7 separate regions of the Homo sapiens genome follow, and all the other regions are reported to be linked to region 7. Evidence: microRNA targets listed by miRTarBase, many of them from high-throughput screens and not tested one by one. Region 7 holds a microRNA gene; each other region holds the end of a gene's coding sequence.
The links. The annotated mature microRNA hsa-miR-21-5p reads UAGCUUAUCAGACUGAUGUUGA and lies in region 7 at 1,764-1,785, shown strand. An mRNA with a match to its seed (bases 2 to 7 or 8) in the 3' UTR can be bound and repressed. Matches are read on the target gene's strand: a 7mer-m8 pairs with bases 2 to 8, a 7mer-A1 pairs with bases 2 to 7 and ends in A, and an 8mer does both.

Region 1: miRTarBase lists MGAT4A as a target of hsa-miR-21-5p. The part of its 3' UTR that is shown has no 7-base or 8-base seed match.
Region 2: miRTarBase lists NSD3 as a target of hsa-miR-21-5p. Seed matches in the 3' UTR shown: 7mer-m8 at 710-716.
Region 3: the mRNA of ATP2B4 is a reported target of hsa-miR-21-5p. Seed matches in the 3' UTR shown: 8mer at 2,067-2,074.
Region 4: miRTarBase lists FILIP1L as a target of hsa-miR-21-5p. The part of its 3' UTR that is shown has no 7-base or 8-base seed match.
Region 5: the mRNA of STXBP5 is a reported target of hsa-miR-21-5p. Seed matches in the 3' UTR shown: 7mer-m8 at 1,987-1,993 and 7mer-m8 at 144-150.
Region 6: the mRNA of PHTF1 is a reported target of hsa-miR-21-5p. The part of its 3' UTR that is shown has no 7-base or 8-base seed match.

What each region holds. Positions count from the first base shown.
Region 1 is chr2:98,622,804-98,625,887 of GRCh38, reverse strand. MGAT4A (alpha-1,3-mannosyl-glycoprotein 4-beta-N-acetylglucosaminyltransferase A) reads left to right here. Exons shown (of 16, transcript NM_012214.3): 15 at 53-165; 16 at 296-3,084. The coding sequence ends at 322. Among named protein-coding and RNA genes, the nearest start is that of UNC50, 16 kb to the right of the region's middle.
Region 2 is chr8:38,272,787-38,275,854 of GRCh38, reverse strand. It overlaps NSD3 (nuclear receptor binding SET domain protein 3), which reads left to right. Exons shown (of 24, transcript NM_023034.2): 24 at 1-3,068. The coding sequence ends at 214. It also overlaps a transcript of DDHD2 not described here. Among named protein-coding and RNA genes, the nearest start is that of PLPP5, 5.1 kb to the right of the region's middle.
Region 3 is chr1:203,739,216-203,742,299 of GRCh38, reverse strand. It overlaps ATP2B4 (ATPase plasma membrane Ca2+ transporting 4), which reads right to left. Exons shown (of 21, transcript NM_001684.5): 21 at 1-2,754. The coding sequence ends at 2,446. All of the region lies in intron 1 of LOC102723543 (a long non-coding RNA gene), which reads left to right. Among named protein-coding and RNA genes, the nearest start is that of LINC00260, 10 kb to the right of the region's middle.
Region 4 is chr3:99,827,823-99,830,906 of GRCh38, forward strand. It overlaps FILIP1L (filamin A interacting protein 1 like), which reads right to left. Exons shown (of 6, transcript NM_001387850.1): 6 at 989-2,783. The coding sequence ends at 2,592. All of the region lies in intron 1 of CMSS1 (cms1 ribosomal small subunit homolog), which reads left to right. All of the region lies in intron 1 of LOC105374010 (a long non-coding RNA gene), which reads left to right. Among named protein-coding and RNA genes, the nearest start is that of HP09053, 5.5 kb to the left of the region's middle.
Region 5 is chr6:147,384,213-147,387,296 of GRCh38, reverse strand. It overlaps STXBP5 (syntaxin binding protein 5), which reads right to left. Exons shown (of 28, transcript NM_001127715.4): 28 at 1-2,583. The coding sequence ends at 2,542. Among named protein-coding and RNA genes, the nearest start is that of SAMD5, 120 kb to the left of the region's middle.
Region 6 is chr1:113,695,072-113,698,155 of GRCh38, forward strand. PHTF1 (putative homeodomain transcription factor 1) reads right to left here. Exons shown (of 19, transcript NM_001323043.2): 19 at 1,760-2,654. The coding sequence ends at 2,634. Among named protein-coding and RNA genes, the nearest start is that of PHTF1, 63 kb to the right of the region's middle.
Region 7 is chr17:59,839,510-59,842,593 of GRCh38, forward strand. MIR21 (microRNA 21) reads left to right here and starts at 1,757; the gene lies at 1,757-1,828. It overlaps VMP1 (vacuole membrane protein 1), which reads left to right. Exons shown (of 12, transcript NM_030938.5): 12 at 259-2,746. The coding sequence ends at 402. RefSeq lists enhancers at 1-79, 803-1,532 and a silencer at 2,818-3,012.

The DNA of each region.
Region 1 (3,084 bases), not on the chromosome of region 7:
TTATGTTTGCTTATCTCGGTGTATCCAACAAGTATTGATTTTTATTTTGAAGGAAAATTTGAGAATGGTGTTGCAGAAGGAATGGTGGATCCAAGTCTCAATCCCATTTCAGCCTTTCGACTTTCAGTTATTCAGAATTCTGCTGTTTGGGCCATTCTTAATGAGGTAAGCATATATCAAATCAGTGAAACAACTTAGAAACTACATTTTTATTATGTTTTTATTTTGTATTTAAGGCCTTTTTGGAATTGAGAATTAACAGCTTTATCATACCTTTTATGATTTTGTATTTCAGATTCATATTAAAAAAGCCACCAACTGATCATCTGAGAAACCAACACATTTTTTCCTGTGAATTTGTTAATTAAAGATAGTTAAGCATGTATCTTTTTTTTATTTCTACTTGAACACTACCTCTTGTGAAGTCTACTGTAGATAAGACGATTGTCATTTCCACTTGGAAAGTGAATCTCCCATAATAATTGTATTTGTTTGAAACTAAGCTGTCCTCAGATTTTAACTTGACTCAAACATTTTTCAATTATGACAGCCTGTTAATATGACTTGTACTATTTTGGTATTATACTAATACATAAGAGTTGTACATATTGTTACATTCTTTAAATTTGAGAAAAACTAATGTTACATACATTTTATGAAGGGGGTACTTTTGAGGTTCACTTATTTTACTATTATAGACCCTCTTTTATAGATTATCAGGGATTATATATATAAATATATAAATATACATAAAAATGTTATGGAATTAATTTATTAGAAACACTTAAGAAGTACATATTTTTGTGCAGTAGATTTTTGAATCGATACTTTTTTTGAAAACCAGTTTCCTTGCTTTTTTAAGTTCTTTCTATATTTTTCTTTGGAAATGCAAACATTACAAACCAATGCCATTTTTCAAATGCACTGCCATTTAAGATTGATTATAGATGGATTTCTTAATTGAAGTACTTTTATAATCACAGTGACTGAACAAAATATTTTCAAAGACATTTGTCATTCCTTAAAGCCAAGATTTTAAAGACTAATGTCCTTCCTGAGGGTTACTTTACTATACTGTGTATGGTGTATAGCCACAGAAAGTCAGTCTGATAAATTTTCAATGTGTAAGTGTGATGCATTCAACCCAGATTATTGTAGACTTAACTTATTATATTTCCTCTGATATGTAAAATGACAAACTCTTCTTTCCTTTTTAATCTTTGTCTTTAATCCATGAATTAGGTGCATTATCTGCTGTTGATTCTTTTATATCTGCACTCATTTTATGACGTCAGACAAAATGTTTTCTAGGTGTTGCTATTGTATGAGTCATAATTGGTATAATTTTAAAGAAAATTGTAATATTGTTTTTTGGTGAAATATATTATTAGTAGTATATTTTCCAAAATGATTTTATTGTAGTATGAACTGATAAGTGAGTCCCGTGTCCAAGAGACTGTATTTATTACTCTTAAACACGCTATTCCAAATGATATTACTACTATAAACAAAGAATATTACCGGTCTCAGCAATCAGTGATCTTTATAAAAGTACTTTTAAAAAATGATGAATTATCACCAGGCGCTGTGGCTCACGCCTGTAATCCCAGCACTTTGGGAGGCCGAGGCGGGCGGATCACGAGGTCAGGAGATCAAGACCATCCTGGCTAACACGGTGAAACCCTGTCTCTACTAAAAATACAAAAAATTAGCCAGGCGTGGTGGCAGGTGCCTGTAATCCCAGCTACTTGGGAGGCTGAGGCAGGAGAATGGCGTGAACCCAGGAGGCAGAGCTGGCAGTGAGCTGAGATCGCACCACTGCACTCCAGCCTGGGCGACACAGCTAGACTCCGTCTCAAAAAAAAAAAAAGATGAAGTATCAACATCAGTTCCCAGCCAGTCTGCTTGGACACACTGGGGTGCCACAAGTGGGTTGCAGGTTGGTTGCAGACGGGCAGAGATGGATTCTGCTGAGCTTTCAGAGTGACCACTGGCTGGGGCCTAGCGCTGGGGCAAGGTTCCAGCTGGCTGCCTCTAGCCTGGAGGAGCTTCATCTAGTTACCCAATGTGCTGAACCAACAGCATGAAATAGCATCATTTCCTGTGCTGTGTTACAAAGTGCAAACGTTTGGAAACACTGATACAGTACAATTATTTCCATCACTCCATGTTGTTATAATTTTTAGTTACTTTTCTTGATTGAAAAGTCAATCACATTGCCAAAAATGATTTTTATGTCAGTTAAAGGCCAGTTGAAATTTTTTTATTAGGATGTTTTAAATTTACTTTTCACTTTCTTGAATTTTTTTCTTCTCAAATTTCCTTGGCCCAGTGCCCATGAGCAAATTTCATTCAAAAACAGGAATAACCTTTTGTCATAAAATTTTGGCACCAGCTTGGTATACTAAATTACTGCAAAGATAACTGAGTACCAGAAGTAAAAATCTCTGCAGGTGGGCTTAGGAGTACTCTTGGGTCCCTGGTTCCTCAGTTGCCAACTCTGGTTTCATGAAGAAAGACCATGCTCTGAAAATCTAGGGAGGAGAAAGTTATTGCAGCACCTGGTGTGATTTGTTACAACTTCTTTAAAGACAGCCTGCCTGGCTAGCTTTTTCCTGTTTTCATGCAGTTTGCCCTCCCAGCATTGGTCCACCTGTTGTTCCCAAGAAACTCATTCTTGTTCCCAAGACTCCTTTTAGCCAAATCTTTCCTATCATTCCAGGACTTTTTTGTGCTTCTCTCCCCATGAATCTACCCGTGCCTAGGGTGTGTGCCAGGCACGTGGCAGGTGGCCAGTCAGCATCTGGATGTGAGACCAATTATTCCAGCCTGCCCTCCTCTTTCTCTTTTTATCATTTTGTATTATTTTTGAGACAGGGTCTCGCTTTGTTGCCCAGGCTGGAGTGCAGTGGTGCTCTCATAGCTCACTGCAGCCTCGATCTCTGGCCTCAAGCAATCCTCCTGCCTCAGCCTCCCAAAGTGCTGGGATTATAGGTGTGTGCCACCATGTCCAGCCCCCTTTCTCTCTCTTAACTCCCTCTCCCTGCTGTCGTTGCCATACTCTTGCATACACAATCGGTTGTC
Region 2 (3,068 bases), not on the chromosome of region 7:
CGATGAGTGCAGCAGTGCAGCTGTTTCCTTCTGTGAATTCTGTCCACATTCATTTTGTAAAGATCATGAAAAGGGGGCCCTGGTTCCCTCTGCACTGGAAGGCCGCCTCTGCTGCTCGGAACATGACCCCATGGCTCCTGTGTCACCAGAATACTGGAGCAAGATAAAATGTAAATGGGAATCACAAGATCATGGAGAAGAAGTAAAAGAATAAATGTGTGGTGTCCCCTCCTTTCTATTTAAGTGAAAAAAGCAAATAGATCATGCATTTAAAAAGAAGAGACTGCTACAGTGCATACAGCCTTTGCCATCGGAACTGCCTTATTAAAGCAAAAATGGGAAACCAGTTCATGCAGGCAGAAGCAGTTGGTGGTGTCTGGTTTTTGTTTGATTTGGTTGGTTTGGGATTCTTTTGTGGAGGGTTAAATTCCCTTGGTCTTTTCTTGCCTTTTATTGTGCTTCAGTGCCATTGCAGCTTGAAAAAGAAATGTTTTTGCTGTTAAAATAAGAACAAAGAGAAAAGTAAGTTTTGTTAATGAGATAAATTTAAAGTCTAAGATGTGTTCCTTGGTTGTATAAAGCAAAAGTAGCCATCATTCCTTTATTTATTTTCATTTTTAGGAATTTCAAGAAGTGTAGTTCAATAGTCTAATCAAGTGTGTGTGTGTTTTAAGTAGGAATCTGAGAAAGCCCTCTAGGAAAGGGTATGATAAGCTTTATATACCTCTTTACTGAGCAGTAGGTAGGCTCACTTCTCTTTCCCTTCAAAATGCTTTTCATAGGCTTAGAGAAGGGCTCTATGGAAGTATTAAATCTGGCCTCTTGAAAACAATGCCTCGGTGGATTTTACCTCTGTGGTCTTAAACAAGGTGGGCTTTGTACTATGGTAACTTTACCTAGAAGGGTATATGGTGTGTTTCCTTGGTGGAAGGAAAAAAAGGAATGGATGTGCTCACTGATTTTTAAAACGTTTTCCATTGACATGGATGGTTTGGGTTTTGGATGAAGTGCGTTTCTGTGGATATGAAGCATAGTTGGAATGGTCACTCCTATTTTCCTGACACTGATTAAGGCAGCTAAAGGGGGATGAAGGCATAAACCAAAATTTGGATCATATAAGCACCATTTTCTGTCCAATTTTATTGTAGACCCTGGTCTTAATTGGAGAGAATTACAGGCATTTTATTTTTTGTCTCTGTTTTCCTCTCCTACTCAAACATTTCTTTTGTCATCTGACCATTCAGTCATGTTTCCTGGTAAAACCACACAAGTGAGTTTGAATTGTATTTGAATAGATCTTTTTGGTTGAGTTCCTAATTTGGGGGGTGAAAGTAGTAGGGGCATCCCCAGGTTACATGTAAAGAATTTCTATTATTATCCAGTACTTAAGATTGCTCCCATTGAGTAAGGGGAAGAACTTCTACTTTTACAGGGTGCATAAGAGCCACACAAACACACTTCATCTTAGGAAGCACTTGGAGAAAACTCCCAAGAAAGTCAGTGTTAGCAAAAATGGTTGATGGTGATGCTTGACTCTTATAGATGCGAGTATACCAAGATGTCTGCTCACCAAACTCACTTGCTTTTAATGCTTAGGAATATGTATATTCCAGTATTCCTTGTATGAAAATAATTAGTAATGTCAGACATTGTTGTAACACTGTACTAAGTAGAAGTCTAGGGTTAGCTTGAATGAATGTTAACTTTCTCTGTGAATTTTGACTGCTTACAATTGCTGGTACCTGGTAGCATTTATTTTCCCTCAAGTACCTAGTAACCTTATGAAGGTAGGGAGGGTAGATGCTCTACCACATTCCTTCAGCTGTATTGAGTGTTCCATTTGCTTATCAATTTAGAGCTCTTCTATGGAAAGAGGGTGAAAATCTGTTTTGTGCCTCTTTTTTTTGTATGTAAATGTGCAATTATACTGGATTTTCTCTTGTAAAAAACACTACAATTCTTTTACTGAAGCTCCTAAACTGCCATTTGCCTGACTCCAGCAATTAATTCTGCGGTGACTCATTGGGCTTCCAGTACTTCTGTTGATTAGATATGGTCCCAAAAGAAAGAGCAAAATGGAAAATGCGATCCATGTCACCAAATATAATTGCTACAAGTAACATGAAATACAGCTCACCAAAACACTAAACTTTGCTCTTGAGCAATTATATAGTTTGATGTCCTTTTAAAAAATAAGAAAAGCTAGGTTTTATCATACTAAAATTTTATTTTGTATATGATGTTTGGTTTTTTAAACTTACTAACATAAGGATTTCCTTTAATATTCCAAATACAGTTCTTGAAACAGTATCCAACATGAAATCTTATCTCCTTGCTTTTAGACTTAGTGCTATTTACTATCTAAAGACTTTTCTATGGTAAGCCAGGGTACATCCTATATACTACAGATACCTTAGGTTTCAGTATTTTTATGCAGCTTCTTCATTGTGTCACATTTTGTTTTCATATCTGTAACAGAGCTCTGCTGAAATTAAAAAAAAATTATGATTAATAGGATTGTTTCACCATTTCAGAAATCAGAGTAGAAAACAAAATAGCTGCCAGGTGCAGTGGCTCACACCTGTAATCCCAGCACTTTGGGAGGCCGAGGTGGGCAGATCATGAGGTCAGGAGTTTGAGACCAGCCTGACCAACATGGTGAAACCCTGTCTCTGCTAAAAATACAAAAAGGAGCCGGGCATGGTGGCACATACCTGTAGTCCCAGTTTCTCAGGAGGCAGAGGTTGCAGTGAGCCAAGATCACATCACTGCACTCCAGCCTGGGTGACAGAGCGAGACTCCATCTCAAAAAAAAAAGGTAACCATAGTTCTGAAGTCTTTGGCCATGAATGTTCTTTAATGGTCTAAAAAGCGGTTTTAGTCATGCTGGTGCCAAGGAGTTCTCCTCACACCTCCATAGCGTCAATGTTGACCTATTTGATATATTTTTAAGTTGCAGATTATAGATGCAGAAAGAGAAAATTGTCCTTTATGTGTGCATGAGTATACATGCACTGTGCCTGTGATACACCAATGAAATATTCCAAAAGACATTGCTCACTCATAGT
Region 3 (3,084 bases), not on the chromosome of region 7:
ATGGCTGTTTGCAGAAAGAAAGTATGGTGTATTGGTTTTAAAACCAATTACAAATATACTAAGTCACCTGTCATGCCAAACAGCTGGTTATGTGCTCCCTTCCACAGGGCTACATGACGGCACTTTATTTTAAATCCTTTAAACAAAATACATATGGCTGACCCAAAAATATCAGTTTCTGATCTAAAGAAAACTATAATTTTTGCATATATTTCTATATTTTCTCTCCTATTATGGAAACTAGAACACAAGAAAAAAAACCATTGACTTTTAAAAAGTAGACACAAGCCCTCAAGGGTAACCTGTCAGGCACCATGAGAACCTTTTGTGAACAGGAATGGTAAAATAGCCTTCAAAGCTCGTTATTGGCTTGCTATTTAAAATGATCTGAGGTAATACAAGATTTGATAGAATTAAATCTTCTAAAATAGTTGATGAATATATATGTGAAACCTAACACCTTGGGTGAGCTGTTTTTTTCCCCTATGAGTATTTAAGACACAAAAAAGAATTATTGAAGCATGTACGTTTTACAAAACCAAAATCAAATTTGCTTTCCTATTTCCTACGATGATGGATTATGTAGTCATGGGGATATGTAGGGGACATTGTTTCTTTATGTTTCCTACTGTGGACAGCTCAGGTGAAAGGGGTGAGGGAGGACAGATCCAGAAGAAAAGGCTAGGTGGATCAGGTCATCTTCCTCTCACATGGGAATTTGGCCGTTCATACATCCCCTCTTCTTGACTCTCATCACTCTAGAAAGGGGGGTGGGCTTCATTTATCTAATGGGAGGTGAGAGTCAGGGACATGAACTGGCCCCTACACAGAAGTCAACACCAGCAGGGATACAAATGGAGCTCCTGCAAACGTGGCTCCACGTTGTCCCAGTAAGGAACACTTAAAAAATCTCCTAGCAAAGTCCCCAACTCCTGAGAGGCAGATGGGAAGGGGATGCTTTGGGCAGTATTCAGGGGAAAAAAAGGCACAGGGCTTTACTGGGCAGCAGCTGGAGCATGTGGCTGAAGCGGGGCTGGAGGAAGGGGGAGTGTGCCGGGTGCGGGGGGTCTTTTTCTCGTTTAAGTTGGCAAAATGTCACAGGGGCCTCCCACTTTGGATACATATTTTCAAAATCAGAATATTTGAGAAAGGCTGGGACCTTCTCAGAGACTGGAAAAGTTGTGACACGTGGCAAAAATTAGAATCAGAAACTGGAGAGAATGTCGAAGCTGGTCCCCAGGCACCTAAGCTCAAGGTTTCTGGCCTCTGCAGGAAGGTTTTCTCAGATCATGCTAGAATGGCTCTTTGGCCTCTCCCAAGGCTTCTGAACACTCATTCCCCACCAGTCAGGTCCTGCCCTGGAGAGCCTTGGCAGATGGCTTTGAAAGCAGTGGTCACCCCAAAGAGGAGCCCACAAAAGTCTGCTTTGATGGTCTGTCTTGTCCTAGATTTGGCAGCGTCTGGTCCTCAATATCCAAGCCCAGTAAGGGGGCAGGGTCATACCCAGTTCATTCTTTTGCCACCACTTTAGGAATAAGAGAAAGCTCAGGCTTTCAGGTAAAAACTGTATACCACACATATGCAACCTTCATGGGCAAGGCTGATCTCCCTGGCACTTAAGAACCACATACACTTTACAAGATGGCAATTTAAAAGCAGAAGGTAACCTGGCAACAACAGAGAAATATTCTTACCAGCACTTAATTGCTTCAAAAGGACCCTTTTAACAAAGAAACTGGTTGGATTCTGGAACTAAATCAAGGGTTCTTTTGGGCCAAAAGGGAGAAGGATCTAAGTTTACACAATTCATCCATATCCTTTCCATTTTCTTAATCATCATAAAAAAAAAAAAAAAAAAGGAAAGGAAGGGAAGACAAAAGACAAAGAACTTTGGAGAGGTTTGAATGAAAGGGCAGAAAGAGTTAGAGGCCTACAGGCCTTTAGGTGTAAGTTTTCAAAGTGGGAAAAATTGAAAAACAATCACACTACTGGCGGATTTTATACATTCCATCTCTACCGCAACATATTTCACTTGGGGATATTTGTCTCCCTCTGAACCCTCAACTTAGCTTATAAATGGCACAGACTTGTAGGACAAAATCCAGAATTCAGGAGAGGAACATCGGGGAGAATGTGGGGTGGGGTGATGCCAAGAGGATTGTCATCATTTCTTTAAAAATGACAAGTGACTACCAAGGAGTAGATTCTACCATGACCTGAATGGGGTTTGACTGGGTCCCGCTACAAACCCCAAGTCAAGCTTAAGTTGAAATCCTTGTAAGTCTGTGCTCTTGCCTCTTCATGGTCAGGTAGAGGTTCACTTCACACACACTGCTGTTAACACAGCAGCTGACGTGACAATGAAAAGTCCCATCATCACCTCATAGATGGGATAGACGAAAATGGAAATAGGTAAAATAGGGATGAGAGTCAGAGAAAGAAAATTCAAACTGATGTCTCTAGGCTCTGTAGAGAGCTGTCCGACTGGGGGAGCTGCACTTGGTTGCAATCCACCGCATTGTTGTTTGTATTGGCATATGGAGTGACCTCACCATCCAACAGGAGCACCCTAGTCCCAAACTTAGAAGCCTTGTCAGGATTTTCCTCCTCTTCCTCATCCAGGAGTGGTGTTCGTGGCAACTCCTCCTCTATGGCGAATTCAGGGTGGGTCATGAAGCTGTGGATGGACTTTTGGTTGTAGGGTTTCTGAATGCTTTCGTGGAGGGAACTATGGAACGCTTTGACCACTTTGATCTATACCAGGGGAAGGAAAAGGAGGATGAGAAAATAGAGAGGTGAGAATTGGCCGGCAGAACAAGGAGATGGTGGATTTAGGAGAGAAACAAAACCCAGACTATAAAACATGACTGCTCAGCATCAAAACCAAACACACATCAGAAGAGATCATGGGGCACTAGAAACATCACATGGCTCAACTTTCAAGCAGTGGGGTGGGCTGGGGTGAGTGACGGCAACTAGGACGTTTTGAAAGCTGCATTAAAAAAAGTAGAAAACCCAAAGCAACGTTAGCATTCCCAAACAATCTACTTTTAAAATGAAACAGAAAACAAGAAGTTTCATTAG
Region 4 (3,084 bases), not on the chromosome of region 7:
TCGAACTCCCAACCTCAGGTGATCCACCGCCTCGGACTCCCAAAGTGCTGGGATTACAGGCGTGAGCCACCGTGCCTGGCTTCTACCTAAATTTTTTAGTACTTTGTATACTATCTTGTCCCTCTTTTTGTGCTTCCTCTTAAACTTATGCTAGCTTGGATAAAAATGTACTTTAGGAAGTCTCCTGACATGGGAGAAAACAATTTTGAAAGCTTCAACATACAACGTATTTTGTGCTTCATTTCAGAGTAAAATTTTTCCCAAGGTATTTTGTTTTTCTGGGACTATTGTTAGTGCATGTTGTTTTTCCTGTTTTATGCTTCTTTTCAACCTGTTTGGTTTTCACTAAGGGATTCCAATGGGTTTTTTTTCTATTAGCATAATTACCAATGTTGAATGTCACCTGGGCATAACTACTTTTCCTAACCCTGTCATACCATTGCTATCTCTTAGCATGTTTTCTCAAGTGAGAAAATGTCTTGACTGAATGGCCTTCTCTTCTTCATTTACTCATTCTCTATTCACTCTAGATTTATCAAATACCTGCTCTATGTGAGGCACAATACTAAGCACTCTGTACATACGTGTATTTTTTTTTTTTTGATGTTAGAGCTTCATCACTGCACCCTTTTTTTTTTTTTTCCCCACAAACAAGGTCTTGCTCTGTCAGTCAGTCTGGAGTGCAGTGGTGTGATCATGCTCACTGCAGCCTCGGACTTCTGGGCTCAAACAGTCCTCTTGCCTCTTCCTCCTAATTAGCTAGGACTACAGGTGTGCACCACCACACCTGGCTTTTTTTTTTTTTTTTCTTTTCGGAGAGACAAGGTCTTGCCAAGTTGCCCAGACTGGTCTTGAGCTCCTGGCCTCAAGAAATCCTCTCACCTCAGCCTCCCAAAGTGCTGGGGTTACTGGCGTGAGCCACCATGCCCAGTCTTCACCTTCTTTTGTAGTCCATCCCCTTCTACTATTCTCTTCCTGCTTTCCTTTCACTTCGACTTTTCCATTTCAGGCTTTTAATTCACTTGACCTCCCCCTACTGCCCTCTGCCACTTGCCTGCTGGGACTGCTGCCCATCATCCCTCTCAATGCTGCCTATCATCCCTCTCAATGCTGCCCATCATCCCTCTCAATGCTGCCCATCATCCCTTTCAATGCTGCCCAGGCCTCTAGCTCCTTCTCCTCCTTGAAATTGCAGGGGCCTGGGGGTGTTTGTACAGTGGCATTAGTGCAATGAGGTGGACTTAGTTAGATAAGTATGGGGAATGGGAGTTCCTTTACTCTTGCTCTGCTGGCTCCAACCCAGGGCAGCTGGCTAAAGCAGTCCTTAACCATGAGGATTTCTTCCAGGGTCATGCTTCCAGTTTTTAGTGAAGGATCACAAAAAATGTTTAGTGTCGTTCCATTGATTTTTTTCCCCCCTCGATTGAAGCTTTTTGAAATGTTTTTTGAACTGCCTTTTGTGTCAAACATGCCTTGTCTTAAAATGTCCTGTATTACTCTGTCCACACTGAATTACAGGCACACCTTTCTCTCAATTCAATGAGAGAGTTTTCAGTGTGATGTAAAGAATTGCTTTAGCTTTCTGCCAGGGGACTGTGTCTACCCTTATAGATGACTGTTTGAATTCAACATTTTGTATTAATAGTTGGGCATATTCATAGGTTATCAGAACTGGAAGGGACCTGAGGAATTATTTCACTTTCCTGTTTTACATGTGGAAACTCAAGGCTTAGATTGATGAATGCAAAGCTCGTTGTCACATGAATGAAAATCTAGGATTGGAATTTGAGTCTCCTAACCCCAAGCTTTTGTTGAATCAACTGATTTTCGATAGTGTTTATTCAGAGAAGAGATATGAATAAACAATGTCCTGTGAGATGATAAATTCTGTATTTTTTCAAGCACCTGGAATATTGATTCATGTCTCCCTAAAATATCTCAATGTTACTGAGACTAAGTGCCAGTGGTCAGGTATGCTTACTACACCAGTGATTGTCAGGTATTCTGCACAAAGGATATATTCGGCTGTTATTCACTTTTGTTATGCTTTTCCTCCTTTAAGAATTATCACTTTGCTTTTTCCCTCCTGGTCATAAAGAAATCATAGTTTTAGACCTTAAAGTGTGATTTTAATTGTCCTGTCATCTTGATGGAAATAATCTGATTTTCTTGACTCAGATTAGGAATTTTTGCTATCACCTTTTCTTAGCAAAATATGATTAATCAGCAAAGTTCTGTAGAATGAAGAATTACTTCTGTTTTCACCAGAAAACTCTTGAACTGTTCTAGTGAATTCAGTCCTATCCCAGGCTGATTCTAGATAGTTCATCTTTGGGTTAGATTATATGTCGGATGAGGAAATGGGTAGATTTGGGTGTGGGTCTAGGCCTGCGAGTGTTTGTGTGTGCATATACACATATAGAAGTAAAATAATTGTAGACGTGCTGCTTTTTGGGGGATGATCTTCATCAGGTCCACAAAGCTGCTTCACCATTTCCTGGAGAGATGGTCCTTTGGCCTTTCATAGTGGTAATTTTAGCTTTCCACATATTTCTGTAGATGAATGTATCCAGGCAGTGCATTGGTATGAGTTACCTTCTCCCTCCCACGTGGAGGAAGGTGTTGGAGGTGACAGTTCTCACGATGTGTAGCTTCCCACAGCCATTTTGGTAAATAGGCTTATCCATAGGCACTGTGGGGGCTTTAGTGGAAATCTTGGTGATGCCTGTAGATTTCGGTTTAGGGATCCGTGCTGGGATTCTCTGCTTGCATACCTCCTTGATCTTGAATTAAACAAGAGAACAAAAGGTAATTAATGGTACAGTTGGTGGAGAAGTAGAAATTGTTTAGGACATGGAGTCAGTTTGGAGGATTTGGCTTTGAAAGCACCAGTTTCTGGGGATGTATCAGATCAAAGATCGTCAGGTTGAAGAAAAGAATGTCAGTAAAGTAATCTGGTGTGTGTTGAATGTGTGCTGTGTGCACAGTTCTTGATAGAGATAGTGGTAGATACAGAGATGAATAGATATTTGGCAATCACGGTGTAGTAGGACATATACAAGAGTAGTGTCCCAAATTAATCTC
Region 5 (3,084 bases), not on the chromosome of region 7:
GTGGCTTGCTGGTGACTATTACTTTCTGTATTTAAAAAGAAAAAAATAGAGATGTTACCTCTCAAATTACAGTAAATTCCCTGGGTTAGTTATTACTGTAGACTGTCTCTTATCTACAGACAGAATCAAGTATAACTCTGAGAAGCTTATTTCCTACACTCAAACATACTTTAAGCTTTCTAATCCTAACTGAGTCTCTAGTTTGTTGTGCATAATTTGTAGATTAATTTAAAAATTAAATAACTCAAAACACTGATTTAAGATTTTCTTACAAAATCTTGGAAATCCATCTAATGTATATACTTCTATATTTGAAAATAATTACAAGATTAGTTCATTTTGTATACAACAGGAAAAATGACAGTAAAAATGAAGTTAATATACAAATATATTTGTGTTATATAACACAAAATAACACAGCAAATTAAATAATTGCAGCTAATATGACCTTCCACATAGATAGGGAACCAACCAGTATATTAATCTACATAATGCTTTCCCAACTTCTTCAAATCCATAACTGTTGATTTTATTGATGACATTCACAAAACTGTACCTTTAAAATAGGACCTAACAATTCCTGTGACATATCATGGAACTATGGGTTTACTGGATAATAGATAACACAAATTAAGCAATTTATAAACTGCTGAATGTTCAGGCAGCTGACATTAACGAAACAGAAATATGTTATTCATTGGTGCTTTCTATAAATTCAAAAACTTTTGAAAAGGGCTTATTTAAAAAATATTTCTTTTGGCTTGATCAATTATCTCTATCACACACATTTAGTCCCTACCAAATGATATTTAAAGTAAACTTTGATGTAAACTTTTGCATCTAGTAGTGCATGTTATAAAATGTAAACATAAAAGCTTTATTAATGAAAAGTAGAGGAAAATATGCATAACAGACTGTATGAAAAAGTTAAGATGTCCTACATATTCCTTTAATGATCATATAGAATAGAAAAACAACCATCCTGTTTACTATCAATTTGTGCTCTGATTATCTCTTAATGAAAAAACAAAATCATTTAAAGGAATTTTTTATAGAAGACAATATTTAAATTTCATTAACATTAATTTTAATGCTTCCATTTTGCTTTTGCTGGGTTGCTTTAACAACAATCAATAATAATCTCAGATTAGTCTGTATTCTGAGATTGCTTACTTCTAGATCTACTAGGTGGTTTCTTTCCTGCCCGTAATGCTATTCTATGAAACAATCATTCATTGTCCATTGCTGGTCTCAAATTGTATTATATTCCAATACAGAAATAATTTAGTTATCACAGTGTACATATTTTCCTTTCTTTTTGGTTTTTTAAAACCTTGAAAGGATATGTACAGATTTATAGTATATTTCTACACAAAATATTTTGTAGGTCATCAGACTAAACTCTTATATAATTATTGACAACAGATGCTTGTAATTTTCCATGCGATAGCATGTGCACTAACATTTAATTGGCTCATCACCTGAGTGTATTGGAACAGTTAGCAAATAAAGGGCATTTTGAAAAGGGAGCTGAGCATTTTACTGAAATAATGAAAGTTTTTTTTTAAGCAATTTTAATTAAAGAATGCAAAGGTACATTTGGTTAAACATTTTATAAAAATTCAAGCAAAATTTAAAACACAGCCAATTTCAACATTTCTACAAATTTAACCAGCATTATTTTGGTCAAATCCACCTTTAGCTGAATTAATGAGAACAAGGACAAGGGACATTGAAGTATTCTCCTCACCACAATGGAGGTTTTTCTCACTTTCCACACTGCATAGCCACTACATGGAAACTCCCAGAATGATGAGCAATTCAGTCATGCTCTACACTTTTCTTTTCAATGAAAAGTGATGTATCTTCTTGTTTTGCTTTTGACAAAATATGAACTAAATACAAGTCTATAATAACAAGAATCCAAGAGTAGCTCATACACAAGTCAACTATGTGTATGTTTTTATTATTTAAAGCCCACCATTCAGCTTATCTGTCTAAAGAGATGATAACAAACAATTTGTTTCTTTTTCACTAATGATACTGATGACCAGTCAGTGTTAAGAGAGGGAAAGTCCAAGACAGCTGTTTATAATCCAGTCCAATGACACACATATAACTATTTCAACTTCAAGACTTCTGACTTATTGCCTCTGCCCTAAACAGGTCAAACACTGATGGCAGATAAAACGGCACAAACCCTTTTGGCATATGAAAGTTTAATACAGGAATGATCCAGGATTAGTCCCTGCACCAGGTCTCCTCAGCAGCCCCCTTGGTTTCTTCATCTGTCACGTGTGACCTGTTTAATTCCCAAATGGTCAACTCATAACTGGCACACACCATATACTCCATTTCGAGTGCGTGTGAACACTCCTCAGTTAAAGCCACATGACTGAGGTAAAACAGTGCATGACTGTGCTAGGAAAGAACAGTATTCAGTGACGAACATCCCTTTAACGTTAACTTTCCTAAAGAATGTAATAAAAATGGAAAACTTTTTTCCTTCTGGCTGAAGTTGGACTTATTGGATTCTGGTTGTCAGAACTGGTACCACTTCTTATCTTTGTATTTCAACATAATCTAAAGGGGGAAAAAAAAGAAAAACATGCTTTTAAAATGCCGGAACAATAACATTTATAAGTGATTTCTATATTTTTCCAAAACATTATGTCATTCTGCAATATTCTGTAGTGCTACTATATGCTTACTTCAACTTATTAAAAGCAGTAAGAACTATTCTATTTGGAGGAAAAAATACGATATCCATTAAGAACTAGCCTAGAAGTTCCACAGATTTCTTAGAAATGTGACATAATTTGGTGACCTAAGCTAGTAATATAAAAGTAAGATAATTTTTATTTTGTACTATGAATTAAAAATAATGCTTGAAGAACTGGCGAATTAAAGGTTGAAAATGCTACTCCTCCTGCCATCTCAAATTTACTGAGCATCTATTCTGAGCCAGACACTGCATGACACACTTTTCCTACTTGATTTCAGTCATAACCATTCTTGGGCTAGGCACTGTTTTTCTCCCCATTTAATAAATGAAACTGAAGCTTCTAGGGGTTGCCCAAGGTA
Region 6 (3,084 bases), not on the chromosome of region 7:
TAGAGTGACTGTAGACTTCTTGTCAGAAACAATGCAACAACCCAGGAGGTAACAGCACAACCACATCTTTAAACCTAGAATTTTATACCCAGCAAAAGTATCTTTCAAACATAAAGATTTAAAATCTTTCTCAATAGGGTAGGCCTACACACCTTGCTAAAAGGATTTTGGATTTTTATCTTCAAAGTGCTAGTAAGCCACTGATGGATTCTAAATGATGAGACTTACATTTCAGAAAAGACATATTACATTTTTGAGATGAGTGGGTTAGGTGTGGGGGAAAGAGGAATCAAGCATACATAAGAGCAGAGATAGCAGAAACTTGCTCAAAAAACAAAGGATGCTGACTTAAATAAGAGCAGTGGCAGTGGGGAGGAAGAAGAGTGGACTGATGAGAAAGATATCTAGAAGATAATTATTCAAAGACTCAGTGATTGATTGGATGTGAGGTATGAGGAAGAAAAATGAGTCAAGAATCATTCCTAAGTTTCTGATATGATTAACTATACTTACACATAATTTTACCCACCTGAAAAATAATTTAAACCAATATACACCATCAAAACCACAACTGAAGCAATCCACACAATTGAATTAATATACTCTAAACACTGCTTTTAAACTAAGAATTAACTGTGTAAAAGTTGTACATAAAAATAGAACAGCATTTTTGTAGAAGAAAAAGATGAAGGCATCAGTTTTCATTTGAAATCTGCAGTGAGCTCAATTTTGGATTTGAGATCACTGCTACTGTTCCCTATGGAAACAGTAAAAGCATGGTTTCTATGAACCATCTGTTGAGATGCTGAAGTGCTTCTACAGAACACTGCCTTCTAAAGGTTTATCACTATAATGGAGTTTTGCCATTTAAAAAATTATAACTCATGTATAAAAGGCTGCATATTTTTGGTAATCAACTTCTAGTTCAGCAACCTTGCTTTCCATGTTTCTATCTTCACAGTTAGGAATTATCAGTGAGATTTTTTTTAAGGACTTTAAATAGTAGTAACACATTTATTGTAGATTTGCTGAGTACTAAATACTTTACACTGTGCAAGTACCTTACATGACAACCTCATTTAATCTTAACAACCTTATTATGTAGTTATTATCCCCACTTGTAGTTATTATCCCCATAAATGGGTTAACAAGTGAGAAAATTGATATACAAAGAGCTAATATGTGGCAGGGCCAAAGATTTGAACCCAGAAAGGTCTGACCTCAATCCCTGGACTCTTCAGAGATCCACCTCTAAACCTCACAAATATTCCTGCTTATTAGAAAATGTGCAACTGATCCTCTGATTTTAAATGAATACATGCTTTACATGTAATAACCAAGTTTCTAAATTATGTTTATTTAAAACTTCACAAAACCTTATCATTAAAATGTTCAAGCTTTCAATTTGCCTCAAAGAGATTCTTGCAAATTAGCCAGGTGTGGTGGCGGGCACCTGTAATCCCAGCTACTCGGGAGGCTGAGGCAGGAGAATCACTTGAACCCAGGAGGCAGAGGTTGCAGTGAGCCAAGATGGTGCCACTGCACTCTAGCCTGGGCAACAAAGTGAGACTCTGCCTCAAAAAAAAAAAAAAAAAAAAAAAAAAGAGAGATTCTTCAAAGCAGGTAACTTAATGAGCAAGAATTATAAGTAGACTATTAGAGCTTTCATTAACATATGTATATGCATGTGTATAACAGGATGCTGCATTACAGAACCTGTATCATCAGAGGCATGGCATGGCCGATTATAGACACTGAGGACCTGAAAATGTACGGAGGGTTTAATACATTAAGTTGCACAACTGATAAACTATCAATGATGCTTGTGATAGGACACATAGCACTGTGTTAGGAACCACAACTCAGATGATCTATATGGAAACAATGCTTCCATGGCTTCCACATAGAACGTGGAAACCATGTTGTATGATGGAAATGGATGAGTAGGCATATACTTAAATTTTTCATGCTGAATTACATGGCATATTGTATGCATGCATCGTTTGCCAACAACTATACAGTTATTAACCCAAAATCGTAAACGAACAAAACATTTCTCCACAGTTTAACAGAAACTCACAGTTTAAAAGTTAATTTTCTTCCTTCAACAACAAAGAAAACCTAGAAACTGAAAGTCTCCAGTAAAGTTCTTTTATTCGGATTTAACCTAAAATAGTTCGCTTGATCTCTCTTTGATAGAGAAATGAAATCTCCAGTTCTATAGACTATAATGGAAAAGTATTGAATTTGCATATTTCCAATAAAAGATATTTGCTTCATGCTTTGGGCATCTATCATAGTTGCCCAAAAGACTATGTCCAGTAAACATAACTGTCACAGTACTGAAGCGCAAACTTACAAAATTGTCTTTGTGTTACCACAACACACACAGTCTTTAGTCAGCTGACTATTCATGTTGTTTGAAAAGCATGAAAATACAGGTTTTTAGCATGCACACCCAGTTGGAAAAGGACTTGCTCCTCCGGAAACACCATTCATTCGCTTTGGCAGAGCTGAGAGCACCTGTGCATGTGAACAAGCAGGTGGGTATCTCACTGGTTTCTGCAGTCATCACTTTCCTTGATAGGTAAGTTTTGATACCAGCCAGGGGAGAGTCCAGGCATTTACTCAGCTTATGATTTAATTTTCCACAGCTAAGAGAACAAAATCACCAAAATAAGTTAGTTCTAGGAAAACCAGGTGGGATTTATAGGTACACTTACATGACTATAAACTAAGAATCCTTTATAAAAGAAGAAAATGTATCAAGTCTGGCAATAGCAACCATAGAACATCATAGAGAAAAAACATTTAAAACTTCCAGGATCAAAAATAATACAATGCAGTTCATGTACTGGTTTTCATTCATTCTACATCTGTACATTCCCCAGGATCAGAGTAAGACCATTACCCAGCTCAGGCTATTAAACTGATATGAAATTCAAACTTGATTTTTTTTGTTCCATTCAAGAGCACTGTCTGTTATATTTGTGTAAAATGAGAAAACTGAAGCTGAAAAGCCTGTGGACCACCAATCAAAATGCCTATTTCTTTACCTCAAGAGTTATTTGCATGCTAGAAACA
Region 7 (3,084 bases):
GAAGAGCTAACCTCACACTCATCCCATTCTAAACTATGTGATTCAACACTGATTTTACATCCAACAAAGTGAAATCTTGATAGTTGGGTGTAAAAAGGAGAGTAATGGAGATTTCAGAGTAGTTGGGGTTGCTTACTTTTCATTTTTAATTCTTTAGGTTTTGTAAGTTACACACTTCAAGCATTATAGATGATCCTCTTTTTACTACTGAACTAATGAAGCCTTTTTCATTGCATTGTTCTGCATTTATTTCTACAGGGAGAAAACTGGTTGTCCTGGATGTTTGAAAAGTTGGTCGTTGTCATGGTGTGTTACTTCATCCTATCTATCATTAACTCCATGGCACAAAGTTATGCCAAACGAATCCAGCAGCGGTTGAACTCAGAGGAGAAAACTAAATAAGTAGAGAAAGTTTTAAACTGCAGAAATTGGAGTGGATGGGTTCTGCCTTAAATTGGGAGGACTCCAAGCCGGGAAGGAAAATTCCCTTTTCCAACCTGTATCAATTTTTACAACTTTTTTCCTGAAAGCAGTTTAGTCCATACTTTGCACTGACATACTTTTTCCTTCTGTGCTAAGGTAAGGTATCCACCCTCGATGCAATCCACCTTGTGTTTTCTTAGGGTGGAATGTGATGTTCAGCAGCAAACTTGCAACAGACTGGCCTTCTGTTTGTTACTTTCAAAAGGCCCACATGATACAATTAGAGAATTCCCACCGCACAAAAAAAGTTCCTAAGTATGTTAAATATGTCAAGCTTTTTAGGCTTGTCACAAATGATTGCTTTGTTTTCCTAAGTCATCAAAATGTATATAAATTATCTAGATTGGATAACAGTCTTGCATGTTTATCATGTTACAATTTAATATTCCATCCTGCCCAACCCTTCCTCTCCCATCCTCAAAAAAGGGCCATTTTATGATGCATTGCACACCCTCTGGGGAAATTGATCTTTAAATTTTGAGACAGTATAAGGAAAATCTGGTTGGTGTCTTACAAGTGAGCTGACACCATTTTTTATTCTGTGTATTTAGAATGAAGTCTTGAAAAAAACTTTATAAAGACATCTTTAATCATTCCAAAATTGTGTCCGTTTTCTTGAGCGTTTTGATTTTTTACTTTTAGCTTATACCAGCTGAATGGCAGCCTTGCCTAATCCACCTACAACAAGAATTTCTTAAGCTTTCTTTTATTTGCATGAGAGAGCCACTACCAAGGCATGTTTTGTTATGCTGAAACTGGGCTGCTGCATACTGCTAAATGGCACCTCTGGGATTGGCCTACCTGGGGATTTCTTGGTTTGTGAAAACAGGAGAGGAGAAATATCTCATACAAGTGAAAGGATACTGGAGAGAGAAATTACCCATTTCTAAAAAAAAACCACACTCTGTCGTATCTGTGTTAATGTTTTCTAGCATGTACTCTGGTTTCAACAGACACAAATTTATATGTTAACCCAGTTTTCTTGCCGTTCTGTAAGTGTTTTATTCTTAGTGTGATTTTTTTCCATTGGGATGTTTTTGATTGAACTTGTTCATTTTGTTTTGCTTGGGAGGAAAATAAACAATTTTACTTTTTTCCTTTAGGAGCATTATGAGCATTATGTCAGAATAGAATAGAATTGGGGTTCGATCTTAACAGGCCAGAAATGCCTGGGTTTTTTTGGTTTGTTTTTGTTTTTGTTTTTTTATCAAATCCTGCCTGACTGTCTGCTTGTTTTGCCTACCATCGTGACATCTCCATGGCTGTACCACCTTGTCGGGTAGCTTATCAGACTGATGTTGACTGTTGAATCTCATGGCAACACCAGTCGATGGGCTGTCTGACATTTTGGTATCTTTCATCTGACCATCCATATCCAATGTTCTCATTTAAACATTACCCAGCATCATTGTTTATAATCAGAAACTCTGGTCCTTCTGTCTGGTGGCACTTAGAGTCTTTTGTGCCATAATGCAGCAGTATGGAGGGAGGATTTTATGGAGAAATGGGGATAGTCTTCATGACCACAAATAAATAAAGGAAAACTAAGCTGCATTGTGGGTTTTGAAAAGGTTATTATACTTCTTAACAATTCTTTTTTTCAGGGACTTTTCTAGCTGTATGACTGTTACTTGACCTTCTTTGAAAAGCATTCCCAAAATGCTCTATTTTAGATAGATTAACATTAACCAACATAATTTTTTTTAGATCGAGTCAGCATAAATTTCTAAGTCAGCCTCTAGTCGTGGTTCATCTCTTTCACCTGCATTTTATTTGGTGTTTGTCTGAAGAAAGGAAAGAGGAAAGCAAATACGAATTGTACTATTTGTACCAAATCTTTGGGATTCATTGGCAAATAATTTCAGTGTGGTGTATTATTAAATAGAAAAAAAAAATTTTGTTTCCTAGGTTGAAGGTCTAATTGATACGTTTGACTTATGATGACCATTTATGCACTTTCAAATGAATTTGCTTTCAAAATAAATGAAGAGCAGCTGTCCTTCTTTCCTCTTTTAAGTGTTCAGCTGTGGCATGCTCAGAGGTTCCTGCTGGATTCCAGCTGGAGCGGTGTGATACCCTTCTTTTTCAGCTGTTCGTGCCTTCCTTTCTTGTATCCACCAAAGTGGAGACAAATACATGATCTCAAAGATACACAGTACCTACTTAATTCCAGCTGATGGGAGACCAAAGAATTTGCAAGTGGATGGTTTGGTATCACTGTAAATAAAAAGAGGGCCTGGGAATTCTTGCGATTCCATCTCTACTTTGTATAAGTCTCATTTTGTGCCTTACACATCTGCAGTATTTATCATGTTCCAACTTGGTGACTGTCAGGCAGTGCAATACATCAGCAGTTTATCACCGAAGAGCTGAGGAATACCTCCCTTAAAACAGACAATGTCGGCCGGGCGCGGTGGCTCACACCTGTAATCCCAGCACTTTGGGAGGCCAAGGCGGGCAGATCACCTGAGGTCAGGAGTTTGAGACCAGCCTGGCCAACATGGCGAAACCCCATCTCTACTAAAAATATAAAAAATTAGCCGGGCGTGGTGGTGCACGCCTGTAATCCCAGCTATTCAGGAGGCTGAGGCAGGAGAATCC